Linked DNA regions of Homo sapiens: region 1 is linked to region 2. Evidence: fine-mapped QTL for protein levels in blood plasma. A gene starts in region 2. The other region holds a variant in brackets. All regions are shown on one strand. Distances are from middle to middle. Region 1 overlaps CRISPLD2 (cysteine rich secretory protein LCCL domain containing 2). Region 2 holds the start of CRISPLD2 (cysteine rich secretory protein LCCL domain containing 2).

The links. A credible set is the group of variants that fine-mapping cannot tell apart. PIP is the chance, under the fine-mapping model, that this variant and not a neighbour inherited with it causes the effect. Protein levels are from the aptamer-based SomaScan assay of Sun 2018.
Region 1: its variant is the best candidate, but not a certain one, in a credible set for the plasma level of the CRISPLD2 protein (Sun 2018, PIP 0.55).

What each region holds. Positions count from the first base shown.
Region 1 is chr16:84,845,122-84,854,633 of GRCh38, forward strand. CRISPLD2 (cysteine rich secretory protein LCCL domain containing 2) reads left to right here. Exons shown (of 15, transcript NM_031476.4): 3 at 665-783; 4 at 4,264-4,396; 5 at 5,447-5,562. Among named protein-coding and RNA genes, the nearest start is that of CRISPLD2, 30 kb to the left of the region's middle. RefSeq lists enhancers at 1-479, 5,890-6,391 and a silencer at 1,262-1,498. The variant C/G (reference allele first, on the strand shown) is at 6,896.
Region 2 is chr16:84,816,840-84,824,839 of GRCh38, forward strand. CRISPLD2 (cysteine rich secretory protein LCCL domain containing 2) reads left to right here and starts at 3,146. Exons shown (of 15, transcript NM_031476.4): 1 at 3,146-3,294. RefSeq lists a silencer at 2,919-3,108.

The DNA.
Region 1 (9,512 bases), 29 kb after region 2:
CTGAAGACCTGGGTTCAGATCCTGGTTCTGTGACTGGCTGTGGGACCCAGGGAAAATGGCATTGCTTCTTCAAGCCTTGGTTTGCTTGCCTGTGAAATGGAGATAAGGGCCCGCTTCGGAGCCCCCTGTTAGAATGCAATGAAAAGGTTGGGGTAAAGCCCGAGGCCTGGTGTGCCTGGAACATGCGTAGTAAGGAGAGGAAGCCTGGTGTGCCTGGATCATGCGTAGTAAGGAGAGGAAGCCTGGTGTGCCTGGAACATGCATAAGGAGAGGAGACTGGGGTCATCGGGACAGGCTTCCAGGCCAAGACCGTCCCTAGAGATGGCTGCTGACCTTCCCTTGTCTTCCACACAGCGTGCCGTGTTACCCTCAGAGGTCACTCAGCATGGCCACTCCTGTTTCACAGACACTGAGGCCCAGAGAGAAGGCACCTGCCCAGGACCTCTGGCAAGTTAGAGGCCCAGCAGGAGGCCTGAGGATAGGCTTGGAGCCGGCACGTCTGGCCTGCCACGCCCCCCTGGCTGATTTAGGAACCCAGCAATACAGCAGCAGAGCATTGGCTGTAGGCTCCACAGGAGCCCAGGCTGGGGCGTTGCTGTATTTATGGTTCTTATGCCCCTCCCTCACCCTCACCTCCTGGTGCCCGTTTCTCCTTCTCCTGCAGACCTGGGATGACGAACTGGAGAAGTCTGCTGCAGCGTGGGCCAGTCAGTGCATCTGGGAGCACGGGCCCACCAGTCTGCTGGTGTCCATCGGGCAGAACCTGGGCGCTCACTGGGGCAGGTAAGAGCCACAAGTTCCTCTCCGGCTGCCGCAGGACCCCACTGCCGTGTGCCGGGCTCAGCACTTGTGCCCCTTATCAAGTTTAGCCTGCAAAGAGAGTGAGAGAGACCACCCGTCCCATCGATATTCTGGGAAACTGAGGCTTGGCATCCAGGAACACTCCTGAGTGACTGACAAAATGTATTCAAGCTTGGTTGGCTGACCCCAGACACTGATGATTGATTAAAGTTTGTAGTTTGGGTTTTCCTTCTTCCTTTCCTTCTTCCTTTCCTTCTTCCTTTCCTTCCTTCCTTCCTCCCTCCCTTCCTCCCTCCTTCCCTTCCCTCCCTTCCCCTCCCCTCCCCTCCCCTTCCCTTCCTTCTTTTCTTGACAGGGTCTTATTCTGTCATCCAGGATGGAGTGCAGTGGCGCAATCTCGGCTCACTGCAACCTCTGTCTCCTGGGTTCAAGTGATTCTCGAGCCTCAGCCTCCCAAGTAGCTGGGACTATAGGCATGTGCCACCACGCCTGGCTAATTTTTGTATTTTTTGGTAGAGACAGGGTTTCACCATATTGGCCAGGGTGGTCTCGAACTCCTGGCCTCAAGTGATCCACCCACGTTGGCCTCCTCAAGTGCGGGGATTACAGGCATGAGCCACCGCGCCTGGCCTGTAGTTTGGGGTTTCCATTCCATCTCCTGTGCAGGGTTCTTGAGTCCCCGTTCCTGTGGGGTGAACTGCTCTGTTCATGGTGGGTCATTTCTGTCTGGTTCTGCTCACTGTTTAAGGCTGAGCCAGGTTCCACCCTGTTGGGAAGATGCCCATTGCCTTCCCCGCGTCATCCAGCCGTCGGGAAGCTCACTAACTTCTCCAGACCCCCGAGGCTTCCCTGTCTGGCAGTGTTCTGTCCCCTCTCCTTCCCTGTCTGGGAGCGATTTGTCCCCTCTCCCATAGGAGGCATTGACGGTTGTCTGTTAAATGCAGCCGACGGGCCTTCCCCAGAGTAAGCTGGACCATGTATCCGTGCTCCCAAAGAACCCAGAAGTCCCCTCCTGGGGGCTGACGGCTGGTTTCATTGGAGAAAGTGGAAAAATGTCTTTTGACCACGCCCAGGATAACAACTAAGACCACATAAGACTTAACGACCAACCTGTGACCGTGCCATGCCCAAGGCCAGAATTCACGTCCTCAGACCCATCCAGGACCTGGATTGACATCCATTTTGCCCTAATTATTGAAAAGTTGGAATGGGCTTTAGACAGCCTCTTAAAATGTAGGTGAGCGTTTGCTTTCACTTCCCACAGAGGGATTTCCTAGCTTGGGTTTCACTGGGCCACGGGCAGCCGCACCTTCCTCTGCATCCGTGGGTTTTCAGGACAAACCTGGGCAGGTGTCATGGTGGATCGACCGCGGTGACTTCACAGAGGCAAATCCACACCATGGTTTTTTCTTTGGTGAAGTTAGCTTTTTATAAAAACTATCTTACAGGCTGGGCAAGGTGGCTCATGCCTGTAATCCCAGCACTTTGGGAGGCCAAGGTGGGCAGAATACAAGGTCAGGAGTTCAAGACTATCCTGGCCAACATAGTGAAACCCCGTCTCTACTAAAAATACAAAAAATTAGCCAGGCGTGGTGGCAGGCGCCTGTCATCCCAGCTACTTGGGAGGCTGAGGCAGGAGAATCGCTTGAACCCTGGAGGCGGAGGCTGCAGTGAGCCAGGATTGCACCATTGTACTCCAGCCTGGGTGACAGTGCAAGAATTCGTCTCAAAAAAAAAAAAAAATCTTACAATAACATGAAAGTGAAGTGTCTAAAGCAGGGAGATCTGGAATTCCACTAGCCTGGTTCGGCTCTTTTCATTTTTCTGAGCTCCTTTGCAGCACCTGGCTGGGCGCCGACGTAGTTTTACAGCATTGAGACTGTAGCCTGGATCACTTTGAAATCTTTTTCTTTTTCCTTTTCATACAATATCAGGAAATTTTCAGTGATACAGTTGTCATGAATGTCGCCCTGCAAATGCCCTAATGATCCCTCTGTGGACAGACCAAAGTTGACCCGTTGGCTCTTGCAGATTCATTTTTGTTTTTTGTTTTTGTCTTTGTCTCACTTGAATGATTTCATTAGGATTACTCCTGAGAAGTAGGATTGCTGGGCCAAAGGGCACACAGACTTCCCCCTTTCTTAAGGAATTTTGCTAACTTGCTTTGCAAAAGAGCCCCTGACTCTGCATGGCCCCCCGGGGCAGCCGCGGGTTCCTTTCCCCACAGCCATGCCAGTGCCAGCCTTGAGTCTGCGTGACCTTGAGCCGCAGGGAAGCGGATGAGTGGCCAGCAGCCCTCTGCTCCTGCCTCCTCACTGTGTGCACGCCTTTCTGCAAATGCCGCTGCCCGCTGCCGTGCGCTCCGCTTCCAGACAGTAATTGTTACAAGACCTCTAACTGCCTCGACGACCACATGGCCCTTAAAAATGGTCATTTCCCCCGTGAGCATTTTCTCTTCATCGAAACCACTTTGTTTATACTTGCTGGTGACAGTGTGACTGTGGACTTGCCTCCAGTTTGGTTTTCTCCCTAGTTATTAAAAAAAAAAAAAATGGTGCCAACCTTGGCAGCCAAGGCTGAAGCAAGGGGGTGGTGGGCATGAAGCGATGACCCCACGGAGGATGTCCAGGGACAGGTGCAGCTGGTGGCTGCAGATTACAGGCATGCACCACCTCGCCCGGCTAATTTTTGTATTTTTAGTAGAGACGGGGTTTCGCCATGTCGGCCAGGCTGGTCTCCAACTCCTGACCTCAGGTGATCCTACCGCCTCAGCCTCCCAAAGTGCTGGGATGACAGGCATGAGCCACCATGTTCGGCCTTAAGTGCACTCACGTCTTCATCAGGTTTTGTCTTAGACAACAATATCTGTGAAATACGGGCTTCATGGGCTGGATAGTTTTTCTCCAACGTACCTGAAAATAAACACCTAATTGACATAAGAAAGGACTCATTACTTGGGAGGCTGAGGCAGGAGAATGGCGTGAACCCGGGAGGCGGAGCTTGCAGTGAGCCGAGATCCCGCCACTGCACTCCAGCCTGGGCGACAGAGCGAGACTCCGTCTCAAAAAAAAAAAAAAAAAAGAAAGGACTCATTAAGAGCCAGGTGAAGAGATTCCTGCACGTGCAGGTGGTGTATGAGCCACCTGAGGAGCCTACTAGAGACCCCAGGTGAGCTCCTCAAGGATAATGGTATTAAGCACCTGTACCAGGTGCTGCTGGAATTGAGGGTTATTCCCCCACCTCGGCCTCCCTCCCTCCTCGCTGCCCGTGGCTGCTCCTGGAATTGGGGGCTATTCCGCCTCCTCGGCCTCCCTCCCTCCCGGCTGCCCGTGGCTGCTCCTGGAATTGGCCGCTATTCACCCTCCTCGGCCTCCCTCCCTCCTACCTGCCCGTGGCTGCTGCTGTCTCCACTGGTGGGTGAGGGGAGGGGCTGGGACTGAGTGAGCGGTTTCTGCCCTGCAGGTATCGCTCTCCGGGGTTCCATGTGCAGTCCTGGTATGACGAGGTGAAGGACTACACCTACCCCTACCCGAGCGAGTGCAACCCCTGGTGTCCAGAGAGGTGCTCGGGGCCCATGTGCACGCACTACACACAGGTAACTCGGGGACTTGCCACGACCTCAGCCCTGCCCCCCAATCCCAGTCATTCACCCCCTGCCCCTGGGGGATTGTCAAATCTGTAAAGCCTCTGCGCTGTTGTTGCCTTCATTTTTAAAAATTCAGTTCTATACAGAGTACAGCTGGGAGAAGAAGCTGTTTGTTACCAGCAAGGTCAGAAACTGAGTGAGCACTACAAACTCTTTTTTTTCTTTGAGGCAGTGTCTCCCTGCTACCTGGGCTGGAGTGCAGTGGCATGATCTTAGTTAGCTTAGTGCAGCCCCAAACTCCTGGGCTCAAGCAATCCTCCCACCTCAGCCTCCTGAGTACCTGGGACTACAGTTGTGCACTACGAGGCCTGGCTAATTTTTGTATTTTTTTTTTTTTTTTTAGAGATGGGTCTGGCTATGTTGTCCAGGCTAGTCGCAAACTCCTGGGCTCATGCAATCCTCCCCGCTCAGCTTCCCAAAGTGTTGGGATTACAGTTGTGAGCTACTGCACTCAACCGAGAAAACTTCTATGGCAATTTGACATTGTGGGGCATTTTCATTGTGTGGGAGTCTGTTTGTTTGCTTGCTTTTTTTTTTTTTGAAACGGAGTCTCCCTCTGTCGCCCAGGCTGGAGTGCAGTGGCACGATCTTGGCTCACCGCAACCTCTGCCTCCTGGGTTCAAGCGATTCGCCTGCCTCAGCCTCCTGAGTAGCTGGGACTATAGGTGCCTGCCACCACGCCCGGCTAATTTTTGTTTTTTTAGTAGAGATGGGGTTTCACCATGTTGGTCAGGCTGGTCTCAAACTCCTGACCTCATGATCCGCCCACCTCAGCCTCCCAAAATGCTGAGATGACAGGCGTGAGCCACCGCACCGGCCCACTTGCTTTGCTTTTTAAGAAAATGTATGTATCTTCAATGGGTTAGGGACTAATATCTGCTTCCCCAACCCTTCACCTCGTACCTCTTTAGTGCCAGCACCTTATACATCCAGGCCAAATGATATCACCCTTTTGTGCCTTATCCCTCGAGCTGTGACACACAAATGTCATCTTTTCAGATAGTTTGGGCCACCACCAACAAGATCGGTTGTGCTGTGAACACCTGCCGGAAGATGACTGTCTGGGGAGAAGTTTGGGAGAACGCGGTCTACTTTGTCTGCAATTATTCTCCAAAGTAAGACAAGTTGATGCCGTTGTATGGGGTGGGGGTTGGGATGTGTTTGCTTGCCAGGGAGCACCCAGTGAAAACTGGCTTGAGCAGCGAAGTCTTTAATATCTCACATAACAAAGAATCTAGAGTTTAGTGCATCTGGGTTAGCGTAATAGCTAAGCAGTGTCAACAAGGACTCGGGTTCTTTCCGTCTTCCTGCCGTACCATTCTCTCCTCATGGTCCCAAGATGGCTGCACAGCACCAACATCACATCTCCCCAAGCACAAGGAAGGATGGTCAAAGGGCTCTCTCCTTAGGTCTTTTGCACACTGGCATACTTTCTCCTTATGTTCTTTGCCAGAATTAGACCAATCATAGATGAGGGGGAAAAAGATTGCCCCAACTGGCTTTGCAAGACGTCCTCTGGGACCAACTGAACAAAGTCAGAAGTGGGAATAGCTGCTGGCTGGGCAACCAGCATGGTCTGCCCTGGCAGTATGATTATTTTTCTCTGAAAACATGCAGTAGACAGCACCCTAGAAAACACATGTTCACACAAAGCCTAGCTTCTCTGTTTCCCTCCAAAGAGGGTCCACATGCGGCCTCCTGATCATGGTGCCTCCTCCGCCTATAGCATGCTCAGCTCATCAGTGTGGTGTCCAGCCCTTGACTCATTTGCTCATGGGACAAATATGTGCTGATTCTTGGAGAGTCACTCCCCCAGTTCATGGCCTGAGGTTTGCATGCTGGCCGCTGGCCACCGCCGTTCTTGCCCCGTGCCCTGTGTAGAGTGGGCCCCGGGGCATGTTTGCTCAGTGACTGAATGAAATGGGAATGACCTCATTTATTTGTTTTGGGTCAGGAGTAGTTATGAAAAGGTGGGATGAAGGGGGAATCGCTGAGGTTGGGAGGAAAAATAGAAGCCCTCTCAAAACCATCTGGTGTGCCTGCGGTGGCGTGGCGCGGCTCAGCAGCCCACATGGATGAGCGCAGCGGGTGTGTCATTGCCTGGGAGGGACGCAGGCACCATGCAAGAGCAGCAGACTGGTCCAAGGTGGTGGAATTCCTGGCCCAGTGGCAGGTGGTGAATGAGGAATCATTTGACTTGACTCTATAAAAAATAGACACTAGAAGGTCCTATCAGAAATGAAATTATTTCCTTCTGTAGCTGCCCCCTGCTTCCTTAAAAGAAGGAATAACCTCCATATGGTAAAATATACTCATCTGAAGTATACAGTGCGACACAGTCTCACATGCATTAGTCTGTTGGGGCTGCAACAACAGAGGCCACAGCCTGGGCAGCTTACACATCAGACTTTTATGTCTCACCATTCTGGAGGCTAGAAGTCCCCTGGA[C/G]CAAGGGGTGGCAGATCAAGGTGTGGCAGATCAAGGGGTGGCAGCATCGGGCTCCAGTGGGAGCTCTCTTCCTGGCTCACCAACGGCCACTATCTTACATGGTGGTGAGAGATGAGGACATCAATCCTATTGGGTCAGGACTTCACCTGTTGACGTCGTTTAACCTTAATTAGTTTCATCAAGGCCCTGTCTCCAAGTACAGTCACATTGTGGGTGAGGGTTTCAACACTGGGATTTGGGGAGACACATAATGAAAGTCCACGGCAATAGCCCTCTACCCGTGTAACTACCATCCAGATGGAGATGGACAGTGTCTCCCATGCCCCAGAGGCTCTCTCGTGCCCTACAAAGTGCCCACCATTCTAGCATCTTTCCCATCGGTCTGTGGTGTCTGGTGTGGGACCTCATATGAAGGGGGCCACACAGCACACTCCCTGTACCCCCAAATGGTGTTTTGCTCAACATCACATTGGTGAGGTCTCCCCGTGGTGTTGCGTGATCACCGGTTCTTTCCTTTTGTCTGCTGCATATTACTGCGTGCTGTCCATGGCCTCTGTCTTAGAGAGAGGGCTTGAGCCCCTGGGCTATGCAGGACACTGTCCCAGGCACCAGGGTGAGGAGGGTGGCTGGGAGGGTGAGTTTGGGTGTGGGGGGGGTCAGATCCCTTGAGGGGGATTCCCAACCCGACAAGGGGTGGGGTGGGTGTGTACACAGAGGGCCTTGTGTGTGAGGGAAGGTACTTCACGGTGCTATTCAAAAATTAAGGAGACTGGCCAGTGCGGTGGCTCATGCCTGTAATCCCAGCCTCCTTTGGCCGAGGCAGGAGAATCGCTTGAGTCCAGGAGTTCAAGACCAGCCTTGGCAACTGGCAAAACCCCATCTCCACGAAAAATACAAAAAGTTAGCTGGGTGTGGTGGTGCATGCCTGTATTCCCAGTTACTTGTGAGGCTGAGGTGGGAGGATTGCTTGAGCCCAGGAGGTTGAGGCTGCAGTGAGCTGTGGTCACACCACTGCACTCCAGCCTGGGTGACAGAGCAAGACCCTGTCTCAAAAATTAAGGAGATTATTTGTCTGCAGGACCTGGTGCCCAGCCAGCCTTCCACCAATGCCAACCCTGAGTGTTAGGGTTGAGCTGGGAGCGTCAGTGGTGTGGTTTGTCTGAGGAAATATAGAACCGTAGACACAAGGGGAAACTTGGCAGGGGCAGTGGGACGTACCCACGACAGGGCCACGATCATCTGAGAAACCTACTGGGCTTCACCCAGAGACAGGATGGGCTCTGGGACCTCTCGGTCCCTTGGTGATGTTCTTTTTGGGGGAGTCATCCCGAAGACCCCCGGGGATCTGAACAGACGATTTCTGAGCAGGGATGTCTTGTGGCATGGCACGGACGCGATCATTCTGCCTCCGGAATGTGAGAGGGTGGAAGAGGCTGTGTGCACGTCATAACAGTGCCCAGTCAGACAGTGGCCAGCCCTGTCCTCCCCACACTGCACGGCCCACTGTCCCTCCCCTGCCCACAGGCCCCTCGGTGAGGCCAGGGTGCTTCTGGGGCCGCGGGAAGTTCTAGGCCACTCTTGTAAGGACGGATGCCTATCAGACCCAGAGCGTGTTTCCTGCCGTTTGTCTTTGGCCAGCACTGGCAGGGCCCCTCCCCATCTTCCCTGGAAAGCATCAGAGCGTTCCCCGCACAAGCCTGTGGATTTCCCCAACGCTCAGAGCACAGCCTTCCCCGTGAGTCAGGTGCCGGTCCAAGGGCTTCCCCACGGTCACTCCCTCAGTCTCACAGCAGCCCTGCTGCCGTGATCCCATTTTACAGAAAGGGAGACCGAGGCTGGGGCTGGAGGAGGCTGGCCGAGGGCACATGCTGGCAGCCTGGGGCCCAAGCCGGGGAGCCTGCTCTTCACAGCCCAGGAGCCGCAGGAAGGGCCTGGGGATTCCGCTCACCACCTCTACCTGGCCCCTGGAGAAAGCCTATGGTGCGGCCTCCAGTTTTCCTGCCCCTGGGAACTCCGGAGGGAGGCAGAGGGCAACTGTGACCCAAGAGGGACCTTTGATCCAGCCCCTAGAGTAGAGTGTGCCTAAGGCTCTGAGCCGGACAGCCTGTGTTCAAATCCCAGCCCCGCCACTTGCTTGTCCTGTGACCTGGGGCAAGTCACTTAACCTCACTGTGCCACAGTTTCCTCCTCTGCAAAAATATTGAATTCCAGCTCTTCCCTCCTGGGGTGTTGGGGAGATGGGGTGAGGAGTGCAGTGAAGGCACAGACCAGGGATGGTGTGTGGTAAAAACTGGGAAACGCAAGCCGTCTCTGGGACAGGCTGGCTTTACACATTTGAGAAATGGCTTAAAAGGGGGTCCTGGCAGCTTTTCAGCGCTAAGGTGTTGTGATCTAGGGGCCCTAACAGTGTTCAGAGCTGTGTTGGTGGAAGGGGGGCCACGGGGCTGACAGCCAGCCAGGGCAAAGGTACTGTGTGGAAGGGCATCTTGTAGCTCCCTTCTGCAGAATCGCTGGGATTCTGGAGCTCTCTAGACTCTCTGTGCACGGGAGAGGCCTGGGATAGCCATCTTTCCCGCTTCCCACAGCACACAACCTTCCCCCCTGACCTGTCAGTGGC
Region 2 (8,000 bases):
GGGTATCAGTGACCAGTCCCTTCCCAGGGGGCACTTGGGACGGGACTGGCCATCTTGCCCCTTTCCTTGGTACAAGTTGGTGCTCTCCCATCTGGGACTTCCCAGGGGTCCCCCTTGCCCATGAAACACCATTTTTTTTTTTTCAAATTCAAATGTTATTTTTTGGAAATTAGATTCTGAGATTGCAACATGATGGAAAAGTTGATCACCACTAAACTCCTCTCTCTCTCTTTGCTTTACTGGCTCTAATAATAACGGTATTAACTAACACTTTCTGTGTGTCAGGCCACGTATTACTTCCCATCTATTAACCATTTGTGCCCACAGAGAGAGACAGAGATGCCATTATTACCACATTCATTTCACAGATGGGGCATGGAACGCAGCGACATTAAGTGACTTGCTCAAGGCCAACAACTTGGAAGTGGAGGAGCTGGGATTTGAACTGAGCCTGATGCCGGATGATGACACAAACCAGCAAGCTAAGGATTCAGTCTGCCCCGTGGGTGAGACTGCCCGGACAGCAATCGTGGCTTGCAGAGCAGTGGTCTCTGGTTGCAGCTCTGCCAATGGGGTCCTTGGAGCGTCTGGGCTGGGCTGGGTCTCCCCAAAGCCAACTTGGGCCGGTGAGGAGCCTACAGGGTTGCCATACAAAGGATCTGTAAGGAGATGAGGGTTGGATTAGCAAAGTGGCAAACATTTCACTATTGACAACTGCCAACCCCCGTTCCACCTGCTGGGCCTATGTAGAGGCTGATTCCGTGTAGCTTTCCTTCCTCTTTGCTGGAGTGGGGATGGAGTAGGGACCCAGTTCATTCCATTCCCCTGCACCCAAGGTTTCATGGTCACAGGCAATGGCAGCCACGTGGGTGAGAGTGTGAATTCAAATCCTGGCTCTTCTATTCAGAGGCTGTGTGGCCTCAGGGAAGTGACTTACACTCTCTGTGCTCAGTTCCATCATTGAAAAAATGAGGCTAATAACAGGACCAGCCTGGAGGGTTGTTGGGGGTGGCAGGATTTGGCAGTATAATGCTTTGGGGTCAGGTACTCAGAGGCATCTGTTTTGTTGTTGTTTGTTTGTTTGGTTGGTTGGTTTTGTTTTGAAATAGGGTCTTGCTCTGTCACCCAGGCTGGGATGCAGTGGCTCGATTTCAGCTCACTGCAACCTCCACCTCCCAGGCTCAGGCAATCCTCCCACCTCAGCCTCCTGAGTGGCTGGAACCACAGGCATATGCCACCATGCTGGCTACTTTTTGTAGCAACTGGATTTCATCATGTTGCAGGCTGGTCCTGAACTCAAGCCACCTGCCTGGGCCTCCCAAAGTGCTGGGATTACAGGCCTGAGCCATCGTGCCAGGCCTCCAAAGGCATCTGCTAACACAGATCTCTTCTCCCCTTGGATTTGTCTTTTGTCAATCCAAGGACTGTTGTTCTGGAACAGTCTTATTCACTACTGAGCCCTCCAGTGCTTGAAACAGAGCCCAGCACATAGTAGGTGCTTAATTATTGGATGACTGCATGCCAGTTGAGTGCCTCTGAAGAATGATGCTTCAAAGACTGAGAAAAGTAAAACAAAAAGAGGAAAAAAAGATAACAGAAAACATCTGCATTATTATTATCTTTTTGAGATGGAGTTTTGTTCTTGTCTCCTAGGCTAGAGTGCAATGGCGCCATCTCAGCTCACTGCAACCTCTGCCTCTCAGGTTCGAGCGATTCTCCTGCCTCAGCCTCCCAAGTAGCTGGGACTACAGGCATGCACCACCATGCCCGGCTAATTTTTGTATTTTTAGTAGAGACAGTGTCACCATGTTGGCCGGGATGGTTTCGAACTCCTGATCTCAGGTGATCCGCCCGCCTCAAACTCCCACAGTGCTGGGATTACAGGTGTGAGCCACCGCGCCCGGCCAGTCTGCATTATTCTGTATCTGCATTTGAGCCGCACCAAAATCTTAGGCAAGCCTTCCCTGTTTGAGTCCACGTCACGCAGGCAGCCTTCCATAGTCCTTGTTCCACCCATTCCCCATCCTTGTTTCTCCCACGTGCCCTAGCTCGTGGGGGCCCCAGACTCTGAGATCCCGGAGGTGTCTTGTTTGTGCCTGCTGTATAGCACAGGGCCCGGCACAGAGCGACTCGATGGGTATTTGGGGAATGAGTTAATGCTGGAGGAGCTAATTCCGGTGTCTTGGTGCGGAGATGAGCAGTGCGGACAGGCCCCCTCCTGCCCTTGGGCCCCAGCACCTTACCGCGCAGTGCCTGCATACCCGTCCACATTTTGTGACTGAGGCGGGAGCACGGGGCAGTCCCTTAGCTCTTAAGGAACGTGGATTTACCTGTTTCAAAGGTGATTTCGTCTGGCTCTAAATTGATTTCCGTATGTACCTGCACAGGTTAAAAATGCTAAATGCCTCCGGGCAAAAGAGATATGAACATGCTGCACTGCTCCTAGCTACGGGACTTGGGGCACGCTCTTCTCCAAGCCTCAGCTACTGGATCTGTGAAATGAGGTGATTTCCACCTCCCTGGATTCCTGGGAACGCGTCCTAGGGTCGTTGAAGGTAAAGTGCGGAGCCTGGATCCCCGCGCTAGCGGCCCCATCCGGAAACAAGTCTCCCTTTCTTCGTCTGCAAATTGGGAAGAGGGGGCCTAAGTTTTCTGAGCACGTGTAGAGGGTGGGAGTCACCTCAGTAACTGTGTACTCTGCACCGCGCCACAGTTCACAGCGCCCAGCCCTTGCGGATTTCATTTGCTAAAATCCTGGGAGGTCGCCTCCTTATTCCTATTTTCCAGTTGAGCTGCAGAGAGCTGGGGTTTGGTAAATTTGCAAGCCCCTTGTGGGAAGCGCTTGGCACCGCGCCAGGCGCATAGTAAGCGCTCAATGAAAACTATGCTTGTGTGGCCAGTGGCGAGGGAGCTGAGCGTCTCCTTGTCCCTAGCCGGCCCTGGAGGCCAGCGGCCCCGCCTTCCTCGCCCACCCGGCGCCCGCGCCTCAGCTGCCCCCCGCCTCCTTCAGCCCGCTGAGCCTGCGGGGCGGGGCCGGGGGCGGGGCCGGTGATGCTCGGTCCTACCAGCGCCGCCAGCGATCTGGGGGCGTGGCCTCCGGGCTCCGGGGAGCCTACAAGAGGCGGTACGCTGAGCCCCGGCACCCACTCGCATCCCAGGGCGTCTCCGGCTGCTCCTATTGAGCTGTCTGCTCGCTGTGCCCGCTGTGCCTGCTGTGCCCGCGCTGTCGCCGCTGCTACCGCGTCTGCTGGACGCGGGAGACGCCAGCGAGCTGGTGATTGGAGCCCTGCGGAGGTAAGTGTGATTTCCATGCTTCTCCCTTTTGCAAACTGTTACCCCCCCGAGAAGCTGGAATAACTAGGACAGATGCCACCTCGCAGGGCTGACTGTGTGCTGGCACCACACCGAGTGCTCTGCTTGCATAGCGGAACACAGCTTTGCGACATGCCCTTTTGCAGATGGAGAAACTGAGGCTCAGCGAGGACAACTCATTTGTCCAGGACCTCGCAGCCAGGACTCCAAGGACCCAGGATTCAACGCCGATCTGAGCGCAGAATCCTGCTCCTTAGAGGCTGTTTACTCTCTTGCCTTCCTCGTGCAGTTCACTAGCATTTGTTGCATTCCTGTGTTCGTAGTGGGTGTCAATAACTGGAAAGCTGATGGCATGGATATGGCAGGCATTAGAATGTGTCCTACTCATGTCTGGAGGACCAGGGTGATCTAGTGGCATGTGCATTCAGCTGCAGTTTAGAGGGCCACGCCCCTCTGTGATTTCATTTGCAAGGTAGCCTTCTTCCCACATTTCAGATGAAGATGCTGAGGGTCAGAGAGGTGAAGTAAGTTGTCCGGGCAGAGCCAGGGCTGGAACCCAGCTCTGTCTGTCTCCAGAGCTTCAAATGGATGTGTAGAGACTTGGGGCCATGTCAGGGTTCTGCAGTCTGGGGGAACACGTTTCTGGGTTTCTTTAGCCAGAGCGGGCACCTGCATAACTCCTGCGTGGGGAGAGTTACCCTGGAAGCGGAGGGCTCACTCTGGAGTGTGGGGGAGATCGGTCGTCCCACGTGGACAGAGCCAGGGCTAGTCCCTCATGTGCTGCAGACCCAGAGCCTCCCTTGCTAAGGCTGGGCTGGTGGACAAGCCAGGGAGGACTTCGCTGATGCCTGCTCATCGCAGTCCAACTTGAATTGGGCGTCTCTCAGCCAAAATGTGAGTTGCTGCCCTGGCTGAGAGAAGCATCCCGTGCAAATGCCTAGCTTGCCTTGCAACCGAGAGTGGGGTTGTGAGTTTCCCCTTTGGGCCTTTGGACCTCTTGCCCTGGTAGAATGGGGTGAGCCTGCTTTCCCCATCCAGGGTCTGATGTCTGACAGTGAGGAGAGCCTGCAGAACAGGACCGGGGCGTGGTCCTTTCCAGTAGACTGAGGCCATGAGTTGTGACTGTCGGCTGTCCCAGGGCTCCTTGGGTTGTATGCACCTGATTTTCTGCTTCTGCCCCTGATCTGGCTGTTCCCACTCAGGAGAAGGGGTGGGTGTGTGACTGTGTTGCCTGTGCGGCAGGCACGCGGTCTGTGCCACGCAGTTTACCTGTATTGTCATCGCTGCAACACCCCGGGGAGTAGGCCTCTTGATGCCCACTTCACAGCTGAGGAAACTGAGGCTCAGCAAGGTGAAGTGCTTGCCTAAGATCCCCCAGCTGGTATGGAATGCTGTCACCCCCAGGTGGGTCCTATCTGCACTCTTGACCCTGCTTTCTTTAAGACACTTCCCTGCCCACTGCCAACTCCACCCATGAACCTGACCTTCACACAGGTGATGTTTTGTCTTACAGGGGCTCCAGTTAAAACCACTGGACAATGTACCCAGGGAGGAGAAACCAAGAGGGTGATTTTGATTTTTTCAGAGTTTCTTAAGATGTGAGAGTAGGAATAGTAATAATGCCATTTGTAATAATACAAGCAGCTGACATTTACATGATGCTTAGTACAGACCAGACATGCCCAGGGTTTCCACGGATGAGCTCACTGCCTGCTCTATTAGCTGGGCACTTTTTACAAGGAGTTAGTTGAGGCTCAGAATTATTAAGGTGTGTGCCCAACATGACACAGCCAGGGCGGGGTAGAGCTGCCGTCCAGGCTGGGCCCTGCCCCAGATTCTGGGGGAAGGTGCCCATCTAATGACCAGCCACATGACTGTCCCAGCAGAGCTTGCTGCTAGTTGAGGCTTTCTGTGCCATGTGGGAGTTTTTTTAACGTTGGCAGGGATCTGGGTCCCTGGTCCCTGTTGGGGTGAGGCTGGGAGGGGATCAACTGACCCTGGGCTTGGGCTCAACATTGCTGACAGGTACTGAGAGCCCCGTCCCAGGACCCAAATCAGTGCTGGTTCTGAGTCCTGCCTCTGTCCTGGAGAGGAGAGTTGGTTTGACTGGGAAGGCCTGAGCTAGGGAAGAAGACTGCGAGGTCTCTTAAAACCTCTGCACTTCATCCCTCAAAAGACCACAAATTAAGTATGTGGCCCTTTGTAAGTTGCATTTGAAAGTTTTTGGAGGCAGGACCCTCTGACGTCTTTGGAGGTCAGAAAGTTTTTGGAGGCAGGGCACTGACCTCTTTGGCCTGTGGGAACTGGAACTTTTCTTTCCTCTGTCACCAGCGTCATTTGCTGTGTGTGGGAGGTGTCTGCATGTCTGCCTGCGCCAGACTCAGGAGGCTTTTTCTTTCTTTTTCTTTTTTCTTCTTTTGCAAACGCACTGGTTTTTGATCAGTCCCAGATGTGCAAACCCAGGATCACTCAAACGGGCTGACGGCTTGTCAGGAAAGGAAAATTCAATCTGGGCATATTTCACTTCGTCTTCAGTTCATTGAGTGGAACAGATGCTCAGACCTTCCAGGGACAGGGACCTAAAGCACGTTGTAAAGTCTTAAATAGAGCACGCTGAGTTCTGGGACAGGCAAGGGACAGGTAGATCTGGGTGGTGGTTAATAGGATGGGCCATGTTCTGTTTTTCTTTTTCCTGAAAAGATGTATTGTGGTAAAAATACACATAAACATAAAATTTACCATTTAACCCATTTTGAAGTGTACAATTCAGTGGCGTTTAGTACATTGGAAGTATTGTGCAGCCACCACCACTAATTCCAGAGCGTTTCATCATCTCGTAAGGAAACCCCAGGCCCATTAGGCATCATTCGCCATTCTCCTCCCTTCAGCCGCTCATCTCCTTTCTGTCTCTACGAACTTGCTTATTCTGGACATTTCATGTAAATGGAACCACACAATGTGTGGCCTTTTGTGTCTGGCTCCTCTCACTCAGCATCATGTTTTCAAGGTTCATCCATGTTGTAATGTGTATGAGACCTTCGTTCCTTTTTTATGGCTGAGTAATATTCCATTGCATTAATAGACCACGTTTTGTTTATTCATTCTTCCACTGAAGGAAATCTGGGCTGTTTCCACCTTTGGCTTTTACAGAGGCTTCTGCTGTGAACATTTGTGTACAAGGTTTTTTGAGGGCGGATGTTTTCATATCTCTTGAGTGTTTACCTGGGAGGGAATTGCTGGGTCATATGGTAACTTTATGTTTAACTTATTGAGGAGACTGTGGCCTCTTTTTTGAGTTCCTTCTTGAAGCATCAACTCAGGTCATGTCATTCCAGAATGTGTTGCTGGCCTTCTCCATGGGTGCAGGGAAGCCCTGGCATTTGGCATTTGTGGGCAGTGTTGGCGTGCCACCTGGGTCACAGCAGCAGCAGGCAGGGAATCCTGAGACATCGCCCTGGGGGAGCCCTGCCTTCTACCCCAGGCTGTACAATGACGAGTACTCTTGGACAAAGACCCCTCTTGCAAGGCTGCGAGGACATCATGGTCCAGCCCGAGGGAGATTTATCTTTGATTGTCTTGAGTGCTGCATCAGCTAAGACAAAAACCACAGAGTCAGAGGGAAAAAAAACGTCCTGATGAGGATTGTGCAATTTCCGGACCATCATTTTTTAAAAATTATAAATTATGAAATCCCACATTTTCAATCCCAATTTCTGGAACGTGTTTTATTTTGAGCACAGAATGGCAACATCCCAGGAAAAAAAGTCATGCTCCCATTTTGCTTGTAATCAAGTGAGCTGGAACTGACCCTACCCCAAATATTTTTTGAATAGGGAAAAGACTCAACTGGACCCCTCTAAGGACTGGGAGCTGGCATGGAGCTGGCATCTTCTGAGACTGACTTGAGAAGAGCCTGATAACGCCTAGAGGAAACAGGCAGGGTTTTGCGAGCAGGGGAAGATGATAGTGGGTGGGTGGGGAGCTGGCGAGGGTGCCCCAGGCAGAGGCACCGTGTGTGTGCAAAGGCCTGCAGGTGGAGAAGGGCCTGGGACTCTTGGAGAATGGCAGGAAGTTTGGTGTGCCTGTAGTCTACGAGCCAGGCTCAGGGCAGCAAAGGTCTGTCCTGCAGGTGTTGTGATGAGCTGTACCACTTAGTGGGCACCATCAAGATGAACAGAGAGTAACACGGTGGCACTGAGAACTTGAGAACAGCTCACTCTAGAATGAACTGTGTCCTCCAAAGTGTGCAGAGCCAATACCTAGGGGTCCCCAAGGTGACTGAGCACGGGCACAGATCCAGCAGCAAATCCCCCCAGTCCAAGAGCTGTTCTTTCCATTCTCTGTTCTTTCCATTCTCTGTTCTTCCGGTCCTTCTGCTTATGGCAAGGTGAAAGTCACAGGTGGAATTGTCCCTATCACCTCTCCCACACCCTGATCTCCTTTTACAACAAAGAGCAAGCATCCTCTACAACAAAGCCTTTGGTTGGTGTCAGTGCCTGGCTGGGAGGAAGTAACTGTTGTTTTTACTGTGTTTAATTTCACTCCTGCCGTCTGTTCACGGCACCAGTGATCAGGTTCTCTGCCAGTGGGAGTGATAGAAAGTTACCTTTTTAAAGTAAATTTCTTGGAACGCAAAAAACAAGCCAAGTTAAATAAAAATACAAAATATGGGGCCAGGCGCGGTGGCT